Homo sapiens: one gene and its partner. The protein of the gene in region 2 purifies or fractionates together with the protein of the main gene of each other region. This does not show direct contact. Each region holds a gene or a part of one and is shown on either strand. Other genes may lie near its edges.

What was found. The genes of interacting proteins can lie anywhere in the genome.
Region 1: the proteins of SREK1IP1 (region 2) and RABL6 purify together in Homo sapiens (affinity purification with mass spectrometry; one large-scale study listed by BioGRID and IntAct). This does not show direct contact.

The regions. Positions count from the first base shown.
Region 1 is NC_000009.12:136,814,416-136,818,067, reverse strand, and holds part of RABL6 (rab-like protein 6), read right to left. Parts: intron 3,586-3,652; exon of another isoform or gene 3,518-3,585; intron 3,299-3,517; exon of another isoform or gene 2,537-3,298; intron 1-2,536. UniProt on the Homo sapiens protein: May enhance cellular proliferation. May reduce growth inhibitory activity of CDKN2A.
Region 2 is NC_000005.10:64,758,598-64,762,249, reverse strand, and holds part of SREK1IP1 (protein SREK1IP1), read left to right. Parts: intron 1-2,769; exon of another isoform or gene 2,770-3,652. UniProt on the Homo sapiens protein: Possible splicing regulator involved in the control of cellular survival.

The sequences.
Region 1 (3,652 bases), on a different chromosome or scaffold from region 2:
TTTTTTGAGATGGAGTCTTGTTCTGTTGCCCAGGCTGGAGTGCAGCGGCGCGATCTCAGCTCATTCCAACTTGTGCCTCCCGGGTTCACACGATTCTTGTGCCTCGGCCTCCTGAGTAGCTGGGATTACAGGCGCCTGCCCTCATGCCCGGCTAATTTTTGTGTTTTCAGTAGAGACAGCGTTTCACCATGTTGGCCAGGCTGGACTCAAACTCCTGACCTCAAGTGATCCACCTGCCTCAGCCTCGCAAAGTGCTGGAATTAGAAGTGTGAGCCAGCACCCGGCCCCCTTTGCTTTTTGAAATCCACTCCTGTGTTTCGAGCTCAACTCCACCTCTCTGAAGAATAACCTTCAGTATTTATTTCTAAAAGAGCCTTTGCACAGTGAGCCTCAAGCTTCGGCAGAAGTGGAGCCAGTCACACGGCTCTCAAGTGCTCATCAGACAGAGACCTCAGCCCACGTCGGCCTCCCCTCAGCCCACGTCGGCCTCCCCACAGCCCACGTCGGCCTCCCCTCAGCCCACGTCGGCCTCCCCACAGCCCACGTCGGCCTCCCCTCAGCCCACGTCGGCCTCCCCTCAGCCACAGGTTTGCTGCGAGCTGGTCACCAGTCCACTGCATGCTCCTCTCAGGGAAGTCTTTTTGTTCTGGTTGCATCTAAGATGTTTACTTTTTAATGTTTTGAAAATTTCCAATGATGTATCTAGCTGTGGATGTTTTTAAACTCTGGACTTCTTGGAGTTTCCTGTATTTCATGAACTCTGGAAAGTCCTCAGTCTTCCCTTTCTCCTTTCTTGCTCTCTTCTCCTTCTGGAACTTGTACTGGACATGGGCTGGCATCGCCTCCTCCCTGGGCCGCACATCTCTTCCCAACACTGCTCCTCTCTTCAGCTGAGTTAGTGCTGCTTCTCGTGCTGCTTCTCCTGCTGCTGACTGATTTAACGTTAATGACTATGTTTTTCATTTCTAGAGGTTTTCATTCTGTTTCTTTTTCAAACATAAACTGTCTGCTCATGGTTTTTTGTATTTATAATTGACATAATAATTGCACATATCATGGGCATACAGTCTTGACTAGTCTTAAGATTGCTTCCTTTTACATCTTTATCAATTTTAACATACATTTGTTTTCTATTATCTTCACATTTTGAGAATGAAGAGTCTTATTTTCTCTCCCTTGAAATGAAATTTACTCCTTTTAAAAGCTAATTACCCATATACACACCTACTATATGGCCACAAACTCTTTTTTAAAAAAGCTAATTACAAGAAATCCTGTAACATCAGAAATAAGGCAAGTAAAATAATCTGATTTAATTATTTTAAAAAATTACCCCCCCCCCCTTTTTTTTGAGACAGAGTCTCACTCTGTCACCCAGGCTGGAGTGCAGTGGCGCGATCTCGACCCACTGCAACCTCCACCTCCCAGGCTCAAGCAATTCTCCTGCCTCCGCCTCCTGAGTAGCTGGGATTACAGGCATGTGCCCATCACACCCAGCTAATTTTTGTTATTTTTAGTAGAGACAGGGTTTTGCCATGTTGGCCAGGCTGGTCTCAAACTCCTGACCTCAAGTGATCCACCAACCTCGGCCTCCCAAAGTGCTGGGATTACAGGAGTGAGGCACCATGCCCAACTTAACCTCTACTTTTAAGTTAAAAAGTTAGGCTGGTCGCAGTGGCTCTCTCCTGTAATGCCAGCACTTTGGGAGGCCAAGGCAGATGGATCGCTTGGGCCCAGGAGTTTGAGACCAGCCTGGGCAACATGGTGAAACACTGTCTCTACAAAAATTACAAAACTCAGCCAGGCATGGTGGCGTGCACCTGTAGTCCCAGCTACTCAGGAGGCTGAGGTGGGAAGATTGCTTGAGCCAGGGAGGTGAAGGCTGCAGTGAGTCAAGATTGCGCCACTGCACTCCAGTTCAGGCGAAAGAGCAAGACCCTAAATAAATAAAATCAATTTCAGAATCTTTTTTTTCTCCTGCTGGTCCCTTGATCTTGGGTTTTCTTTTTTTCTGCTTAACTTCAGAATCTTAAATGTTGGCTGCAATAAGCTAAGTGATTCTCCTGGAAAACCTTTAGGATTCATCCAAGAAACGCTAAGAAGCCCTGTACTTACCTGTACTTAACCTCATGGTAAACCTGCTCTTTTACTAAACGGGATGTGAACACGACCTCTGTTCTAAGCTTGTTTTAGAAGATACAATGCAGAAAACACAGAGCTCTATTTGAGGCCCTGAGCCTTTCTTACCCTGATTCAATTTAACTCCTTCACATTCCTGCAGCTTTCCTGCAAAATATGGAATAATTTTCTTACATTTTCATACCAAGAAGAGCTTATGATTTATCTCAGATGCATGAAGGTTTAACTCCTAACCAGGCCCTCTCACAGTGCCAGCAGCATCTCCTGGGCCCATTACAAGGGCCCAGCCACCTCCCCACCCTGACAGCCTGTGCTGCAGCTGGTGTCAGCCACACCTTGCTCCTCTCCCACTCTGCACCCTGCAAAGATTTCCCATCCTCAGCAGCTTCAGACTACTTGGTGTCGAGGCAGGTAAAAACCAAGGTGACCCCAAGAAAATGGCTGCTCCCCCAAAGGAGGCAGAAGGAGGAAGTGAAGATGAGGAAATGTCAGAAGATGAAGAAGATGACAGCTGTGGAGAAGAGACTGTCACACCTCAGGAGAAAGGCAAGAAGGCTGCTGCAACCCCAGCCAAGAAGGTGACAGTTTCCCGAACAAAAAAGGCTGCAGGTGCCACACCCACCAAGAAAGCAACTGTCACTCCAGGCAAAGCAGTCGCCACACCTGCCAAGAAGGGAGCCATAGCAGGCAAAGCACTGGCAGCAGCTCCTGGCAAGAAGGGACACCCCAGCCAAGGGGGCAAAGAACGGCAAGAACGCCAAGAAGGAAGACAGCGATGAGGAGGAGGATGACTCTGAACCAGCAGTGATGAAGGCAGCAGCGGGTGCCCCTGCCTCAGGGGATGAGGACGAGGACGATGAGGACGATGCTGAGGAAGATGGCTCTGAAGCAGCACCTATGGAAACAACACCAGCCAAAGGAAAGAAAGCTTCTACAAATGCTGTTCCTGGGAAAGCCAAGAGGATGGCTGGGAATGAAGATGAAGAGGATGATGAGGACAAGGACGAGGGTGACGATGATGAAGAGGATGAAGTGATGAAGACGACAAAGAGGAGGAAGGGTCTGTCAAAGAAGCACCTGGAAAATGAAGGAAATGACCAAACAGCAGCTTCTGAAGCCAAGAAACACAAAGTGGAGAGTGAGAAGCACAGAACCAACTGTGCCTTTTTTTTTTTTTTAAGACAGGGTCTCACTCTCTCGCCCAGGTTGGACTGCAGTGGCGCAATCTTGGCTCACTGCAACCTTCACCTGCCAGGCTCAAGTGATTCTCCTGCTTCAGCCTCCTGAGTAGCTGGGATTACAGGCGTGTACCACTACCACCCGGCTAATTTTTGTATTTTTAGTAGAGACGGGGTTTCACCATGTTGGCCAGGCTGGAACGTCTTTCAATCTTTGTTGGAAACCTGAACTTTAACAAGTCTGCTCCTGAGTTAAAAACTAGTATCCATGGGCCAGGCCTGGTGGCTCACGCCTGTAATCCCAGCACTTTGGGAGGCTGAGGTGGACAGATCAC
Region 2 (3,652 bases):
AGTTACTTAAGCTGTATATGTTTAAATTTAAGCGATTCTAGGAAATATTTTAATGTAATGAAAATGTCAGGCTTCCCTAAATTCCAAAATAGACAATAGGAAAAATATATTAAGTTCTAAGCATCACTGTTAAAATTCCCAGTGACTAAGTTGTTGCCTTTGGAAAGATAGGTGATGTAAAATTTCAAGGAAATAAATTTAAATCGAATATGACATTCCTTTGCGGACCACTGACCAACCTGAAGCAAGTGTTGAGGACTCGCCATCTTTCTCTCAATTTTTCTCAGTCCTTTTATTTTTGTCCCTTCTTTTTGGTTTTCTCAATATTTTCTGTTTCTTCGTTGTCTACTGTTAACTTTAAAATTTTTTTTCTTTTGTGCTAACTGCTAAGACATAATTTACATGTTTTAAAAACAGCACAGATCACAAATGTTTGGCTTGAAGAATTTTGACAAATAAATTGAGTGTGTGTGTATACGCACACGCGTATTTCTTAGCTGGCAACTGGGGTCTAGAGAAGTTGCCAGTTTCCAACTTCTGAAGTATAGTCATGCACCACAAAATGATGTTTTGGTCAATAACTGACTGCATATACAATGGTGGTCCCATAAGATTATAATACTCTTATTTTTACTGTACCTTTTCAATGTTTAGGTATGTTTAGATACACAAGTACTCACCATTGTGTTACAACTGCTTGTAGTATCAATACAGTGACATACGGTACAAGTTTGTAGCTTAGGAGCAGTAGGCTATACCATATAGCCTAGGTGTATAGCAGGCTATATCACCCAGATTTATGTACACCATGATGTTGCCACAAGGACAAAATTTCTGTGTTGTGCCTAACAACACATTTCTCAGAATGTATCCCTGTCATTAAATGAAACATGACTGTATTTTCTTAAGCTTATAACCTCAAATCAATAAGTATTTGTTGAGCACCTCTTAGCAACTCTCCATCATGGTAAGCACTGAGTTGGATTCAAAATTATATGGCTACTTTAAGTTACTGGAAGAAAAAGGACCAGCCCAATTACCTGATTCCTCCCACTATCACCCAAGTTGTTTAACAGAATACTAGATTCAGAGTAAGCCCTTAATATTTAGCAAGTATAAGAATGAAGACTCTGACATCATGAATTAATAAAATTTTATTGAAAGTCTGCAATGTAACCTCTCTGAAGAATTTACAAATGCAATAATTGCCTTTTGTCAGATAATGTTTACTTGACAGTTACTTTTCTTAGTGTTACAGTTTTGTTTGTTTGAGGGAGATTTTCCAGATTGGTTTTTGAAAGGGTAATTTAATCACCTTTCACATTTTAAAACTGCCAAAAGGTATATAGTGACATGTCTCTTACTCAAGTCCTTCTCTGTCTGGACTTAGTTTTCTTTCTTCAAGTAACCAATCTATATCCTTACAGAGGTATGTCTAATATCTTCTGTAAGAATTAAAGAAAGAGGTAAGAAACATGAAAAGATGGCTCGCCAGTCAGGACAGATTTATTTAGAGAAAACAAACGTGAGAGGTGCCTTCTGGCCAAGTTAGGTCAGAGGCACACTCACTTACAAACTAAGAGTTTTTAAAGATTCAGGGTGGGAGAGTTTATCAGAGGCTTGGACTGCTTCTCTGACTCTTTGTTGTGCTTATCTGGGAGGGAGAGTTGTGTGTCTGTTCCCATACATCTTTCTGCAGCTGCAGGCCTATCAGTCTGCATGTAGCTTTTCTATCCTAGTGCACCTGAAGGGAAAGGAATGTGCTTATTAAGGCCCACTATTTTACTGGGGCCCATTGTATGAGGGTGAAGTTTGGCAGTTGCTCAAGAGACTTTCCCCCCACCTCCCTTTGTGCCCAGCTGTCTTATCTGTATGTTATTGTCTGTTCTTTCTGGCTGCTTACAATTAGAAGAGAAGTAATTTCCTTGAAATGCATGAGGCTAGAAAGGGAGCTGGAATTTAAAGTGGTGGTGTTTGTCCCAGATGACAGTGCTCCTGCTCTATCATCTTCTTTTTTTTATACGAATGGCAGCATGCCATAAACACTGTTCTGCACCTTGCTTTTTTTCTTTTTACAGTATATCTTAGCGATCATGACATCATTAAATAAAAACCATCCCCATTATTTCATACCGTAATTGATTTAGCCAGTTCCGTATTGATATTTAAATTATTTCTACTCTGTCCCTATTAAAAACAATGCTATAGTGAATAACATTGTACATAAGTCAGTATGCATTTGTGCACATAAATTGGGAGAACTAATTCCCAAATGTGAGATTGTTGTGTCAGAGAGGTATGTACACTTGTAATTCTGACAGGTTTTGTCAGCCTGCTTTCCATAAGAGATAGTACTAATTTATGCTCCTGCCAGCAATGTATGAGAGTATGCCCCCCTACACTTCCTTCAACCTTTCAATCTTTGCGATTCTGATAAGTGAAAATGGAATCCCAGTATAGTTTTTAGTGTACATTTTACCTGTTTTAAGTAAGACTGAGCATATCTCCACATGTTTGAGAGTCATTTCTATTTCCGTTTCTGTGAACATCCTTTGCCCATTTTTTTCCTGTTGGTTACTGATCTTTTTCTTAATGATTTGCTGAGATATATACATAGGGATAATTGCTCTTTTTTGGTCCTATGAGGCGCAAATATTTTTTCCTCAAGTTTCCACGTGTCTTTTGAGTTTGCTTTTGGTGGTTTTTGCCATTCAGTTTTTTTCCAATGTCAAATTTATAAGTTTTTATATAATGCCTTTTGGATTGCAGGTCATGATTAGAAAGGAAAATTTTGAGGTGGGCACACTGTATTACTCTGAACAGCCTTAGCAAACTTCAAAAAGGAATGGAGCCAAGAACTGCACGGGAGCCCAAGGCAGGGAAGTAGGTAACTTAGCTGAGTAAGGACCTCACAATATAGCTCTACTATAGTCACTTTGACATGGATTTTGAGTACCGTTATATCAGCCAGGGTTCTTATTCCAAACGATAGAAACTGACTAGTTAACTTAAGCAGAAAAGGAAAGATATCAGCTAGCTCAGTGAATCTAAGCAAAGCCTGCATAATAAGGGTCAGAAAATAGAAATGACCCAGGGAACCCATATCCAAGATCCTGCACAAGCCCAAACCTGGTTAGGGCTGCTACTGCCAGTGACATCAGTGCCCCTGGAAACTGGATCCTGACAGCAGAATGAATTAACTTTCCCCACTTTATTGTGTCACTTGCCTCAGATCTATTAAGTCAGTTGCCTCAGATTCAAACTCTTGGGTAGAAGCATTCAGTTGCCCAGACAATCACGAAAATTAAAGACTAATGAAGCTGAAATAATAATTTAACCAAAGACTGGTGAGGAACTAGCTGATGTAAAGTACTTTATTTAGAGTTCTGGTTATATTTCCCTGTCATGTAAAAGTTTCAACTTTAGTAAAGATGATGATCTGCCAAGAAAAAGTTTCATAGTTTGTTTACTCTAAAACTGTGGGATACTTGAGTGATGAATTTATCAGTGCCTTTTGTCATGAGTTCAATTCTAATACATGCAGAGATAAGATTATTTCAGATCTATTACAACATTTTTATTCTGTTGTAGTAATAGTAATGATGCATTTAGCATAATTTTATTCAGTATTTTTTTAGCATCTACAGTTTCT